Linked DNA regions of Homo sapiens: region 2 is linked to region 1. A link means that fine-mapping ties the variant in region 1 to the expression of a gene that starts in the linked region. Tissue or cell type: minor salivary gland. Region 1 holds a variant in brackets; the other region holds the start of a gene. All regions are shown on one strand. Distances are from middle to middle.

Evidence for each region. PIP is the estimated chance that this variant, and not a neighbour inherited with it, causes the effect.
Region 2: it holds the start of STYK1, and the variant in region 1 is fine-mapped to the expression of STYK1 in minor salivary gland (GTEx, PIP above 0.99).

The regions. Positions count from the first base shown.
Region 1 is chr12:10,642,611-10,650,720 of GRCh38, reverse strand. The region is part of intron 1 of STYK1 (serine/threonine/tyrosine kinase 1); the gene reads left to right. Among named protein-coding and RNA genes, the nearest start is that of STYK1, 27 kb to the left of the region's middle. The variant T/C (reference allele first, on the strand shown) is at 4,994.
Region 2 is chr12:10,669,091-10,677,200 of GRCh38, reverse strand. It overlaps STYK1 (serine/threonine/tyrosine kinase 1), which reads left to right and starts at 3,149. Exons shown (of 11, transcript NM_018423.3): 1 at 3,149-3,235.

The DNA of each region.
Region 1 (8,110 bases):
CCCTGCTCCTGCACTTTCAGTTCACTGAATTGGTTTCCCAAATTTACTTAACATTTAGCAAGTCTTTGGGCAACTCTCATTTTATTGTGTCTGTGCTAAGAAGAAAGAAATTTTAGCTACATTTATGCTAATGCGTTGAAGGAAAGCCACACTCTCTTCAGACCACTGGGGTGGGGCAGTAGTAATCAAAAAGGGAAGCTTGATCAGGAGCACAAAGTTGGAACCACTGATTTGAAAAGTAATTATGTTATACAAATAAATTCTTGCTAGAAGAGGCACTTTTAGCTACTATCACTGAAGAACAATTTTACTTTCTTATTAATTCTCACTAGAATCCTCTGATGTAAGCAGGCAGAATTATCTCAGCTGTATAGGTTAGTAAACCAAGGCTTCAATAGATTAAGATAAATCCACCCCTAACTCTGACACTGGTTCTTTTATTCTTTCTCCTTTACTACAGTTGGATGGAGATGATACATTAACTTTGTTCCTGGGAGTCCCAACTTGGCTTTCTCCCAGGTCGGCAAGATAATGCCTTTAGCAAGCAACAATGAAGCTTGTTAAACTCAAGATTTTTTTTTTTTTTTTTTTTTTTTTTTTTGAGACAGAGTCTCTCTCTCTCCCTCAGTTGCCCAGGCTGGAGTGCAGTGGTGCGATCTCGGCTCACTGCAAGCTCCGCCTTGGGTTGATGCCATTCTCCTGCCTCCGCCTCCCGAGTAGCTGGGACTACAGGGGCCCGCCACCACGCCTGGCTAATTTTTTTGTATTTTTTAGTAGAGACGGGGTTTCACCATGTTAGCCAGGATGGTCTCGATCTCCTGACCTCGCGATCCGCCCGCCTCAACCTCCCAAAGTGCTGGGATTACCGGCGTGAACCACTGCTCCCGGCCTGAAGCCATTAATCTTGATTTAACGGTTGTACTTTGTCTTTAATTCTAAACACTAGTTCTTTAGGAAGATTGTTTTCCCTCTTGGTCTTTTTTTGTTACCATCAGCCAATTTTCTTTTGTATTTCTGCTATCAAACTTTTCTGCCTTGTAGCCTTTCTTCCTTTGCATGTTCTTATTATAAAATAACTAAGGCTTAATTCATTCCATTTGGAAAATAGAAAATAGAGGAAAAAATTATTAATAGTAACCATCATCACTGTTGCTGTAACATTCTAATATATTTTTCTTTGGGCTTCCCCTACACAGGTGTTTTTCCCAGTCAATTTCATTGTACTCTTGCCATATATACCTCATTAAAATGTGCCTTTTTACTTAACCCACTAACATTACAAATTGCTGTTTATTAAACATTTTTGTGAACGTAAATTTAATAAATGTGTAGTATTCCATGGTCCAACTGTATAAAAATAATTTGAAACATCCCTCCTTTTGATGAAAATTAGTTATTTTTTCTATTTTTAATTTTTTTCCAGAAAATTTCAAATATGTACAAAAGCAGCAAAAATAGTACAATGACTTCCCATGTATATCCCCTGAATTTGGCAATTTTGAACACATGGTTGATTTTTTTTTATTTACATCTCCACCTATTTCTCCTCCTTCAAGTCCATGAATTATATTTTGAAGCAAATCCCTATTTATATTTTCAAAAAAATTAAATAAGGGTCACAGATTTTCTTGTGTGTTCAGAAACATCTTCCATTTTTAAAAAACATACATATAATTGACATTTGGGAGAGAAATTACAGAGTCAAAATTATGAATGCCATTCAGGCTCTCAATTTTCATAGTGCCAAGTTATTTTTCATAAATGTAGACATTCAGATTCCTTGTCAGTCTTACAAGAGTCATTTTTAAATAAAACTATTTAGGGAATAAACATTAGTTTTCAAATCTTCTTTTCTGCTGGGTGTGGTGGCTCACACTTATAACCTCAGCACTTTGGGAGGCTGAGGGTGGGAGGATCACTCAAAGCCAGGAATTTTACATCAGCCTGGGCAACATGGCAAGGCCCCATCTTTACAAAAAAATTAAAAATTAGCCACCCGGGAGATCAAGTCTGCAGTGAGCCAAGATCACATCACTGCACTCTAGCCTGGACAACAGAGTGAGACCCCAGCTCAAAAAATTTAAAAATAAATAAATAAATAAATAAATAATATTTTGTCTTAAATGGATTGGCAAAAAATGTATCTTGTTTTATTTTAAAGTATTTTTAAAATTACTAGTTAAGATAAAAATCTTTCATCTTAGTTCAACATGCTTCCATATTTGTTAAACATTTTGTTTCAGTGAACTCATTTACTTTTGTTTTTCACGTTTTTGACTATTTATTTATTGGCATATTAGTGGTTTTCTCATTACTATAAAAGTACTATGTTTTTATTTGTTTATTGATTGATGTTTCCATTGTGATTTTTTTTTCTGTTGGAAGAAAGTTTTTTGTTTAAGCTTAGGAAGTTATCACAAACCCAATATAATTTATAATGTTAAGTTTTTTATGTCTCTTAAAGCATCTAGCTTTTTTCCCAAAATTTATTTTGTGTACAGGTGAATCAAAAATATAATTTTTGTTATCAAACAAGTAGTCCATTGCCTAAATTCCATTTGATGAATAATCTATCTTAGTACTTCTCAACCCCAGCTGTATGTTAGTATCTCCTGGGAAGCATTTCCTTGATTGAAGCTGATATCTGAAGTCATAATCTATGGGGTTTATAATCATCATAATCTCTAAGAGGAGTGGTGTATTAGTCCGTTTTTATGCTGCTGATAAAGACATACCTGAGACTGGGCAATTTACAAAAGAAAGAGGTTTAATGGACTTACAGTTCTGAGTGGCTGGGGAGGCCTTACAATCATGGCAGAAGACAAGGCAGAGCAAGTCACATCTTATGTGAATGATGGCAGGCAAAGAGAGAGAACTGTCTTGTGCAGGGAAACTCCCCTTTATAAAACCATCAGATCTCGTGAGACTTATTCACTCTCACAAGCACAGGAAAGACCTGCCCCCATGTTTCAATTACCTCCCACTTTGTCCCTCCCACAACACATGGGAATTCAAGATAAGATTTGGGTGGGGACACAGCCAAAACATATCATTTTACTCCTGGCCCTTCCCGAATCTCATGTCTTCACATTTCAAAACCAATATTGCCTTCCCAACCGTCCCCCAAAATCTTAACTCATTTCAGCATTAACTCAAAAGTCCACAGTTCAACATCTCATCTGAGACAAAGCAAGTCACTTCCACCTGTAAGCCTGTAAAATCAAAAGCAAGTTAGTTATTTCTTAGATACAATGGGGATATAGACATTGTGTAAATACAGCTGTTCCACAGGGAGAAATTGGCCAAAACAAAGGGGATACAGGCCCCATACAAGTCTGAAATCCAGCAGACCAGTCAAATCTTAAAGCTCCAAAATGATCTTTGACTCTATGTCTCACATCCAGGTCATGGTGATTCCAGAGGGGGGTTCCCATGGTCTTGGGCAGCTCTGCTGCTGAGGCTTGACAGGGTATAGCCCCACTCCTGGCTGCTTTCATGGGCTGGTGTTGAGTGTCTGCAGCTTTCCCAGGCACATGGTGCAAGCTGTTGGTGGATCTACCATTCTGGGTTTTGGAGGATGGTAACCCTCTTCTCGTAGCTCCACTAGGTGGTGCCCCAATAGGGACATTGTGTGGGGGCTCGACCCCACATTTCCCTTCTGCACTGCCCTAGCAAAGGTTCTCCATGAGGGCCCCGCCCCTGCAGGAAACTTTTGCATAGGCATCTGGGCATTTCCATACAGCCTCTGAAATCTAGGCAGAGGTTCCCAAGCCTTAATTCTTGACTTCTGTGTACCCACAGGCTCAACACCACATGGAAGCTGCCAAGGCTTGGGGCTTTCACTCTCTGAAGCAACAGCCCAAGCTGTACCTTGGCCCTTTTAGTCACAGCTGGAGCAGCTGGGACACAGGGCACCAAGTCCCTAGATTGCACATAGCAGAGGGACCCTGGGCCCAGCCCATGAAACCATTTTATCCTCCTAAACCTCTGGGCCTGTGATCAGAGGGGCTGCCTCAAAGGTCTCTGACATGCCCTGGAGACATTTTCCTCATTGTCTTGGTGATTAACATTTGGCTCCTTGTTACTTATGCAAATTTCTGCAGCTGGCTTGAATTTCTCCTCAGAAAATGGGATTTTCTATTCTATCACATTGTCAGGCTGCAAATTTTCCAAACTTTTGTGCTCTGTTTCCCTTATAAAACTGAATGCCTTTAACAGCACCCAAGTCACCTCTTGAATGCTTTGCTTCTGAGAAATTTCTTTGTCAGATACCCTAAATCATCTCCCTCAAGTTCAAAGTTCTACAGATCTCTAGGGCAGGGGCAAATGCCACCAGTCTGTTTGCTAAAACATAACAAGAGTCACTTTTGCTCTGGTTCCCAACAAGTTTCTCATCTCCATCTGAGACCACTTCAGCCTGGATTTCATTGTTCATATCATTATCGGCCTTTTGGTCAAAGTCATTCAACAAGTCTCTAGGGAATTTCAAACTTTCCCACAGTTTCCTGTCTTCTTCTGAGCCCTCCAAACTGTTCCAACTTCTCCCTGTTACCCAGTTCCAAAATCACTTCCACATTTTTGGCTGTCTTTTCAGTAGCACCCTACTCCTGGTACCAATTTACTGTATTAATCCATTTTCACGCTGCTGATAAAGACATACATGAAACTGGGCAATTTACAAAAGAAAGAGGTTTAATGGACTTACGGTTCCAAGTGACTAGGGAGGCCTCCCAATCATGGTGGAAGGCAAGGAGCAACAAGTCACATCTTACGTGGATGGTGGCAGGCAAAGAGAGAGAACTTGTGCAAGGAAACTCCCCCTTATAAAGCCATCAGATCTTGTGAGACTTATTCATTATCATGAGAACAGCATGGGAAAGACCTGGCCCTATGATTCAATTACCTCCCACTGAGTCCCTCCCACAACATATGGGAATTCAAGATGAGATTTGGGTAGAGACACAGCCAAACCATATCAAGTGGGAAATGAACA[T/C]CAGGATTGATATTTTTTAAAAATGCCTCCTAGGAGATTCTAATGTGCTCTCTGGTTTGAGAACCACTCATCTGCTTATTTTGATTCTTGCTGACTTCTTTATATTAAAGTCCTAAATATGTGTCTCTTTTTCTGGGATACTTATGTGTTCTATTAATCTATCTCTCTGTTTTTCAGTGTGTGTGGGTGTGTGTGTTTAGGCTTTGTAAAACATTTATGCCTGATACAGGCCTCTCCATACCAAACTTTGCTTTGTTTTTTTTAGAATGAGAGATTACTGCATGTTGGGGTATTACCAGTTCCCTTTCTTATCTTGCTGGAGCCCTAAGTTTCCAAAGAAATCAACTGTGAAATCTCTCTCTGAACTCCTCTTTTCAGTCCTCTCATTCATATAGGTCGCAAAGATCATAGAAGAGCCCCCTAAACACATTTTCTCCACATCCTCACCACCTATTCATTCCCAGAACCACCCTGCTCTCTGGCCACTGCACTATAGCTATTCTTTCTATGATGGGTGACCTCCATGTTGCCTGTATCTGCTACTTATTGTTTTCCTGACCTGTCATCAGATTTTAGCCCAGCTGTTGTCCATGCCCCTCTCCTTTGCTTCCACAACAGCACAAACTCTTGGTTCCCCTTTTACTTCTCTAGTTTTTCCTTCTTAGGCCCTCTTTGAGTTTCCCCCTGGACCCCAATTCCTCTTCCTTCATGTAGCCCTTATCCGTTGGAACTCCATGGATTCTTTCCTAGGCCCTCTTTTCCTCTCTTCTCTTTTTCCTTTTTGTTCATTTTTTCCTCTTTCTCTCTTATTCACTTTCAAGCTTTCAATATTATCTAATGACTCCCAAATATTTATCTCTGGTCCAGACTTCCCTTATGAATCCTAAGAACTGTACAACCAAATGCTTTTTTCTAATATTCTACTTAAAAGTCACACTGGCATCTTAAATCAAAATGTCCAGAACAACTCATCATCTCCTCTTCTTTGATTTCTCCTTCTCCTTCTTACCTTCTACAACCACTGTGTCCTGTTGGTTCAATCTCCTCAAGGTTTCCAATCCATTATTTTTCTTTTTTTTACTGTCACTACTGTAATCCAAAAAATGATTATGAAATTATTAGTTTCACAATTGATATTCTCGTATGTATTTATTATCACCTGCAATTTATTACTCAATTGCTGCAAAACTAATACTCATTTTTACTTTTCAATTTGAAATGATTAAAGGTTCACAAGTAGTTGCAAAAATAGTATAGAATCCAATGTAACAATTACCAATTTTCCCAATGGGAACATCTAAATAACTGTAGTAAATTATCCAAATTATGAAACTGACAATGGCACAGTATAATGAACTAGAATGTAGAGTTTCCTGGGATTTCAGTTTTTGCATTCACACATTATCTTTTTCCTCTCTGTGCATAGTTCTTTGATATTTTATCACATGTATAGACTCATGTAATTTTCACCACAGTCAAGATACAGAATTGTCTGTCACCATAAAGAAACTCCCTCATGCTACCCCTTCAAAGTCACACCTTCTCCCTGTTCCTACTGGTAAACACTGATCTATTTTCTGTCTCTCTAATTTTGCCATTTTGGAAATATTATACGGATGGAACCATACAGCATGTAACCTTTTGAGACTGGCTTTTTCCACTCAGCATAAAGTCCTTAAGTTCCATCTAAGTGTTGCATGTAGGAATAATTTGTTCCTTCTTATTGCTAAGTAGTATTCCAAATAATTTTTTTTTTCTAAAATACAAAATGGACCATGTCACTCTATTTAAAGCACTTCAGTGATACTTAGAATAAAACAAGCAATGTTTAGCATGGCCTAAAGGCTCATTATGATCTGCCTCTCGCCTACCTGCACAGTGCCATCTCTTCGTGTTTTCTCCTCTCTTGTTACTGTCCAGGCCCACTGACCTTCCAGTTATGAGAATGTATCAAGCTCTGTTCCCATCCAAGGCCTGGATATTCCTCCTCTCTTGCCTTGTGGCTGTGCCCACCTTTATCTAGTCAGCTCCTACTTATCATTTGCTTAAATACTGTTTACTTAAAGAAACTTTTTTTGACTTCCTTCCTATTGCCCCGTTTTTATAGCACCCTAAACTTCTCCTTCATAGCAAAACATATTTAATAATTTTTATGATTAATTATTTAACATCTGAGTGAATGACTTGGTATAAGGCTGGCCCCCCAAGGAATGATGTGAGATAAACTAACTAGATTGTAGAAGTGGAAGAAGTAGAGCTGTCTTGAATGGACAGTTCAGTTACAGAGCAAAATTCAGGCAAGAATTAGCAACTCAGGTTTTCAGTGTGGCCAGCAGAACATAAAGGTAATGGGTTCAGGGGTGTGAATGAAATAGGAATGAAGTAGAGTGGAGCAGGATGATGGTCAGTAAAGAGGCATTCAACCATTGTGGTTGCATTTATCTGGGAGGCTTTTATATTAGTAGCAAGAGCTCAGTAATCAGAGTATAAAGTAAAATTTCAATCTCACTTAGGATTGATTTAGGCAAAGAGAGGACAACACGGCCCCATCGACTTGTGTGGCATTCAGGTGAGGGCTCCAGATTTGAGAGGGTTTTGTTAATAGGCATGAGTAAGTGGGCAGATTTGGGGAAGTGGATAAAGGCTACATCTTCCCCAAATTGGAGAGTATGTAAGATAAATAGGATGAAGAGGACTGAGACTGCTGATCTCCGTAATGCCCCCGTCAGAATTGGTTCAGGATCTGGGTGGAAATTAGCCAGCATATAAGTGATATCAGCGGAACCAGTACAAGGAGCTGAAAAATTTAGAGACAGAAGAAATCAGGCAGGTGCTGATATATTTTCCCTGATGAATACCATACCACTATCTAGCATTCTTTCCATTTCTGTACCTTACTTTACAGCATTATGCTATTTGATTTATCTGGTTTAAATCTCTCTTTCTCAACATGATTGTTAAATTCAGATATCTACTGGCAGCTGTACTATTTCTGCTATCAAATGACACCTAGTTGAAGTATAAAAAGTTTTAAATCCTGCATTAACTTTTTGATTACTTTAACTCCCTCTCTGTGCATAGAGTATACTTACATGCACAAATATTATAAATATTTAG
Region 2 (8,110 bases), 26 kb before region 1:
ATAGAATTTTGTTGACTTCTGACTTACAGAACTGTAAAATAAAACATTTATGTTGTTTAGACCACTAAGTGTGTGGTAATGTGTTATGTTAGCAATGGAAAACTAATATATAAGGTAAAAAGAAACAACATATACATGGAAGCTTACCAATGATCAATATTCTCTAGGGTATACCAACCAGGGTTAAACATGAGGTCATATGAATAGTAATTTCCCATACTCTGTCGCCGCCTTTAGTTGGTTGCAGAACCTCTGTTGTTTCTTAAAAGATCTTTTCCCCAACTGTCCCTGAAGATCCTCAAGATAGTAGAGGACCTCATAAATTTTCACAATCCCAAACCCTAGCGGCTACATAGAATCCACTCTTTTCCTTGTCTTAGATTTCTTCTGGTGATGTCTATTGTTCTCTAAATGCCTGGGAACTCCATTTACATGCCAGGCATTGCTGCAGCAGTGACTCTACTGCTGACTTTGTTTATAATTTTCATCAGAGTGACTCTGATCCTCTGTGCCAGTGCAAGCCTTTCAGGTAAGCCTCAGGCCCATGTGGAGCTATCTCCTACTGGTAGCCACTGCTTGCCCTTTTGTGAAAGTTGAACTGCATTTCCAGATAAAGTTGGAAGAATTCACCTGCCCCGCTTTTGTGTTATATTCCCTTGAAAACAGTTCCAAAGCAAAGCTACCTTGTGTACACAAGGTCTCATACGGTTTTGTTGTTGCTGTTGTATTTTTCTGTGAAATAACTCTACCAGTTGTACTTGAGAGTCCCCTCTCACTAGGACTCTGTTATTGCATACGGGCTTGGCCAAAGGACATTGAGATGCAGACCCAGCGCTGAACCCCAAGCTATTCTTGTTAGTGGAAAATACCTTTGTGCTTTGATTTTCTTTTTTCTTATAATGAGTGACTTTCCAGGAATTCCTCCATGCCTTCCGTAAATAGATTCCACCCCACTAAACCAGTAGATTCCTTCCTCACAACTGCAGAATCATACAAGAGGGAATATACTAAGTAACACATGGATGGATGGCTTTAACAGTTTAGAGGAGCGCAGGATCTGGCAGTTAGGATTCATGTAGGCTAAACTGGAGAAGGAAGAGATCTCCAGTGTATATTTCAGTGTGACTTCCCACTACCGTTCAGTACTTAATCTGGACAGAGAGATAATGGGCATTCAACAAATTCCTATGGAATTAATAATGAGGCAGAAATAACGATCTGGTAGAAACACTGGGGCCAAAGCATTGTTGACAATGAGTTGGAGGCTTATAAATTTGAGATGGAGGTAATAATTGAAATTACAAGGGAATGAAAACTTGAAGAAAAAAGAGAAATAATGGATATTCTAACCATCTTATTAATGAGTATAATGTGTGGGACTAGCTATACATATATAACTCCTGGTGAATGTCTGCTGTGTAACTCAGACTATTTGGTACTTAGTTGTTTCTGTGTGTGGGCATTATCATTTCCAGTGTTTTCTCTAACTCAAAATGTTTTTAATGTATAATTTATGTGATTTGCTCAAAAAAATTGGAGAGAAAAATTTTGCCTCCCCTTTCTGGATTGTATTTTGGTTTCTTTTTTAACTTCTATTTCTATAATAGTAACTAGATTTTAGACAAAATTCTGTGCATCAGAATGAGTATCTAGCAATACATTGCAGAAATTTTAAAAATGAGTAAACCACTTTATCTGTCATGGAGGAGCATGCTTGGGGAGGTAGAGTAGAAAATTACATAATATGAAGTTCCAATCAGTTCATTTGGATTTGATGTATCACTTATGACATAAAGAATCTAAAGAACAACTAACTGATGAGATGTCTTCCTTTCCCCTTTTGAGGTAAAATTCACATAACATAAAATCAACCATTAGCCATTTAAAAATGAACAGTTCAGTGGCATTAAGTACAATTCATCCTGTTTTTAAAAAGCCCTGAAGGAAGTGAAAATGCCAATAGAGAAAGCTCTAGAGAACTGACATACCTCAATCTCTAAATATGCCACATTACATTGACTCAAGTTCTTTTTGCTCTAATGACTGTCAGTTTGTGTTTGGTATGCGTTCAATGCTGAATAAATTGGTCACATATTCAAGTTACCTATGACTCTTATTTCTTTAATTGAATTTGTATTAGGTGTTAATATCTAACAGAATTCCTTCAGCTATCTATTGTCTTAAGTATTTTCTATTATTTTAGTTTCCATGTGGACGGGTAACATAACTACCTTGTTCACTGTTTCCCCAGAGGAGAACCCAGGACATAATGGGATATATGTGTGTGTGTGTGTGTGTGTGTGTGTGTGCGCGCGCGCGCGCGCGCGGGCTCTAAATGAATGATCTATTACGTAATCTTGGGGTTTTAATTCTCATTAATTCCTTATAGGTTCCCCCACGTCTCCGCAGTGGTCAGTACTTTTTTTTTTCTTTTTTTTTTTTTTTTTTCTGAGACGGAGTCTTGCTCTGTCGCCCAAGCTGCAATGCAGTGGCACAATCTCGGCTCTATGCGATCTCTGCCTCCTGGGTTCAAGAGATTCTCCTGCTTCAGCCTCCTGAGTAGCTGGGATTATAGGCGCCCGCCATCACGCCTAATTTTTGTATTTTTAGTAGAGACGGGGTTTCGCCACGTTGGCCAGGCTGGTCTCGAACTGCTGACCTCAGGTGATCCACCCGCCTTGGCCTCTCAAAGTTCTGGGATTACAGGCGTAAGCCACCACTCCCGTCCCTTCAGTATTATCTTGTAACACCCCGGCAAAGCCTTCAGGTGGAGAATGTTCCTGGCGCGGAATAATCCACCTGAATGTGAATCCTGACCATTTTTAGGCGCCAATGGAGGCCGCTGCTACGGGGCCGGCCGTGAGGTGGCGCTGTTGCCCTGTATCGTGACTCCGTTTTCACCTGGACTGGAGTCACCGTGATACCTGACATCTAGCAATCACTAGAGTAGGAAATGAGTATAGATCAGCAACAAGTCCAGCCTTTACAGTTGCAGCAGAGGTTTCCTGTGGCTCGAGTGTGGCGAGTCCCGGAAACCTCGGAGCCCGCAGACTTCCCTTCGCGGGAGCCCGCCCGAACTCCATCCTTTGCCGGCAGCCACGCCCCGCAGTGGGAAGGAGGGACTGAAAAGCATTTCCTTGAGGCTGGCACACCTTGCCCTACCCAACCCTGTCATTATTTCCCCTCCGACTGGGCCGGTGCCATCGGAAACCGGAGTGACCAGAGGAGGGACACGGTAGTGAACGGGGTATGGGGGGCGGGCGCGGCGGGGAGGGTAAAGAAGGTGGGAAGGGAATGGCAGCGAGGCAGCTGGGGGAGGACTTTGCAGTTGGGGAGGGAGAAAAAGGGAAGAGGCTGGGAGCGGAACGGGTGTTTATGTGAACAAACAGAAATCACCAAGTGAATTAACCTGTGTTTCTTCGGAACCAGCATCTTGTGGGGTTTGGCTTCTGTGTTTCTATATGATAAGGGAGTAAACCTGACTCAGCAGATTTGGTGCAGAGAGAAACATGAGAAAACCCAGGAATGGGGGACCTCTGTTTATTCCTGGAGAGGGGGCCATCAGGAGAGGGGGAAGGGAAAGAATGAGGTTACAGGAATTACTTGTCAGAGGACTGCATAGCCTTTCAGACCATGGAATCGTTGCTTTCAGCTTCGGCTTCCTCATCTGCAAAGCATAAATACGGTAATTACTTTCCAGGGTTGTTGCGATATTTAAATGAGATATCAATAACCATGCTTTAAAAGTGTACAGCCTGATGTGCTATCCCTTGTTGACTGAATCTCTGTTTTCTTTCCTTCTTTTTATTTGGGGTGGGGAGTGGGGGAGGGAGTCTTGCTCTGTCACTCAGGCTGGAGTGCAATGGCGCGATCTCGGTTCACTGCAACCTCCGCCTCCCAGGTTCAAGCGATTCTCCTGCCTCAGCCTCCCAAGTAGCTGGGATTACAGGCTCCCACCACCACGGCCGGCTATTTATTTTTTTGTATTTTTAGTAGAGACGGGGTTTCACCATTTTAGCCTCTGTTTTCTTTTCAATGTCTTTTTTCCTCTTTCATTTTTCTCTATCAACCCTTCATCCCCCCTTTCTTTCTTTCATTTATGCGATTGTTGCTTCCTTCTGTAATGGGTCCTCTCCACATTGGAGTTTCTTATACCTATGAGACCACACTTCCTTCCCACTCGGTGGGAAGTAGTGGCAATAAAGGAGTCGAGTTACTGTAATGTGCAGCACAGCTCAACTGAAATACACCTGGAAACAGAACTCTGTGCTGTCTACCTGGTTTTTCCCCCTCAATGCACCGGAATCTCCACTGACAGCTAGCTAGGGGGCAGCTAGGTCTTTCAATGAGACATCATGAAGTATTTGCTTCAATGAAAATCATATACTTTTTCGTTCAGTGCCTCCATTACTGTGTGAGTTTGCTAGGGCTGCTGTAACAAGGTACCACAAACTGCATGGCTTTTGGCACCAGGCACCAGGGACTGATTTTGTGGAAGACAATTTTTTTCACAGATGCCGATGAGGTTGGCGGGAGATGGTTTCAGAATGAAACTGTTCCACCTTACGTCATCAGGCATTAGAGTCTCATAAGGAGTTCGCAACCTATATCCCTCACATGAGCAGTTCACAATAGGGTTCACGCTCCTATGACAATCTAATGCTAGTGGGCACGGTGGCTCACACCTGTAATCACACCACTTTAGGAGGAGTTGGTGGGTGGATCGCCCTGAGTTCAGGAGTTTGAGACCAGCCTGGGCAACTTGGCGAAACCCATCTCTACCAAAAATACAAGAGGAAGAAAAAGAAAGAAAATCTAATGTCGTGGCTTATCTGACAGGAGGAGGAGCTCAGGAGGCAATGACAGCGATGGGGAGTGGCTGTAAATGCAGATGAAGCTTTGCTGGCTCACCTGCCTCTGATTTCCTGCTGTGCACCCCGTACCTGTCGGCGCCCCGGGTGTTGGTGACCTCTGGCTTAAACAACGAAATGATTTTCTCACAGTTCAGTAGGCTGGCTATCCAAAACTAACATGTTATGAAGCCTGCATCTATTCCAGGCCTCTTTCTTTGGCTTGTAGATGGCTGTCTTGATGTTTATATGGTGTTCTCCCTGTATATATGTCTCTGAATTTCCCCTTTTTATAAGGACACTAGTCTTATTGGATTAGGGTCCATCCTAATTACCTCATTTTAATTGATTATCTCTGCACTATCATCTCCCAATAAAGTTACATTATGAGTTACTGGGGGTTAGAATGTCAGCATATTAATTTTGAGAGGGTGTACAGTTCAACCCTTTAACAACTAATGTCTTTAATTATGCACAAGTTAGTTGAGCATTGCATGTATTTCAGTTTTCTCTGGCAGAAACTATTTCCCACCTGTCCCAAACCCTCACAACCAGTCCCAACCAACATGTGCTCCGAAGATCTGCCAGGAGTTATGTGATTCTGCAGCTCTGTTTTCTTTTAACCTGAGTGTGTACATTTCCTGTTGCCACTGTAACAAATTACCACAATGGTGGTGGCTTTAAACAACATAAAGTTTTATCTTACAGTTCTGGGGGTCAGAAGTAAAAATGGATGGGCAGGTTTCCAAATGGATGGTTCTTTTTGGAGGCTCTAAGGGAGAATCAATTTCCTTGCCTCCTTCAGTCTCTAGAGGCTGCTACAGTCCTTGGCTCATGGACCCTTCCTCCATCTTCAAAGCCAGGAATGGCCGGTAAAGTGTTTCTCATGTCTTATGCTGACGCTCACTTTTGCCTTTCTCACACTTAAGGATTCTTGTAATTGCACTGGACTCACTGAGTATTCCAGGGTAATCTTTCTATTTTAAGGTCAGTTGATTCATTCCATCTGTAACCTTAATTCCCCTTCGCTATTTCAACGCTATTAAAAATCAACATGGCCAGGCGTGGTGGCTCACGCCTGTTAATCCCAGCACTTTGGGAGGCTGAGGTGGGCGGATCACGAGGTCAGGAGATCGAGACCATCCTGGCTAACAAAGTGAAACCCCATCTCTACTAAAAATACAAAAAATTAGCTGGGCGTGGTGGCGGGCGCCTGTAGTCCCAGCTAATCAGAGGCTGAGGCAGGAGAATGGCGTGAATCCAGGAGGCGGAGCTTGCAGTGAGCTGAGGTCGCGCCACTGCACTCCAGCCTGGGCGACAGAGCCAGACTGTCAAAAAAAAAAAAAAAAAAAAAATCAATATATTCATAGGTTCTGGAGATTAGGACATGGACATCTTTGGGAAGCCATTATTCTGCCTACTGTACCTGAGCTTTCCCAACTGGGTATTCTTTATTTTTATTATATGTATATTTAAAATTTATGTTTAATTAAAAAAATTAAAAATTATATATATATTTATCATATACATGTTGTTTTGAAATATGTATATATTGTGGAATAGTTAAATTAAGCTAATTAACATAGTATTATTTCACATATTTTTGTGATGAGAACACTTAACATCTACTGTCTTAGCAATTTTCAAGAATACAATACATAGTTATTAACTGTAGCCACCATGTTGTACAATAGATCTCTTGACCTTATTCCTCCTAACAAGGAGGAATAAGGTCATACCCTTTCATATCCTTTGACGTCTTTCTAACCCCTCGAATTCCCCCAACCTCTGGTAACCATCTTTCTATTCTCTACTTTTATGAGTTCAACTTTTTCAGATTCTACATATAAGTGAGTTCCTATGATATTTTTCTTTTCGTGCCTAGCTTATTTCACTTAACATAATATCTCCTGGGTTCATCCATGTTGTCAATTTCCATTTTTCAAAAGGCTGAATAATAGTTCATTGTGTTTATACTGTATGTATTTATACTTTATTCATTTATCCATTGATGGACATTTACATTGATTCCATCTCTTGGATATTGTGAACAATGCTGCAATAAACATGGCGTGCAGACAGCAGTATGTGAAATCAGACACACTGATTTCATTTTCTTGCTATCTATACACAGAAGGCAAAACATTGAGCCTTCAGAATAAAAGTAAGATAATATACTGAATAAAGAACATTATATACAAAAGTCAGATCACTATTGGATGTATACCGAATAGTGGGATTGCTGGATCATATAGTAGTTTACTTTTAATTTTTTGAGGAACTTTCATACTGTTTCCCTAACGGTTGTACTAATTTACATTCCCACCAACAGTGTGCAAGCATTCCCCTTTCTCTATATCCTCTCCAACACTTATTTTTCATCTTTTCGATAATAGCTATTCTAACAGGTATGAGGTAATAGCTCATTTTGGTTTTAACTTGCATTTTCCCTGATGATCAGTGATGTTGAATATTTTTTCACATATGTGTTGGTCATTTGTGTGTCTTCTTTTGAGAAATGTCTATTCAGGTCCTTTGTTCATTTTTAGTACAGTTATTTGTTTTCCCCCTATTGTTTTAGTTCCCTATGTATTTTGGATATTAATCACTTACCGGATATTAATCACTTCTCAGATATTTCTACCATTCCATGGGTTATCTCTTCACTCTGTTGATTTTTTCCTTGGTTGTGCAGAAATTTTTTAGTTTGATGTAACCCCATTTGTCTATTTTTGCTTTTGTTGCCTGTGCTTTTGGGTTTATGTCCAAAAAAACATTGCCTAGCCTAATATGATGGACCTTTTCTCTGTGTTCTCTTCTAGTACTTTCACAGTGTCAGATCTTACATTTAAGTCTTTAATCCATTTTGAGTTGATTTTTGTACATGGTGTTCTTTATTGAGTATATTATCTATTTTTATTCTGAAGGCTCAATGTTTTGCCTGCTGTGTATAGAAAGCAAAGAACTTTAAATCTTTTTTCTGAAGAAAAACAACCTGCTTAATGATGGAACAAAAAATGTGTCCCTATCGAACAGAAACCTGGGTACCATGTACTTGCTATATATACTGTTAAAAACTACTCCCCATTCCCCCTTGTACTTTTAGTATTATAGCTTAATCCTTTATGCCCCATTAGTTTCTATAGGTTATTTTTCTATAAAAATTTCTTGCAGATCCAATGCTATTTTCATAGATGAATTAGCTACTTATTTATTCAACAATCATATGAATTCTGATATATGCCAGACACTGCTCTTGG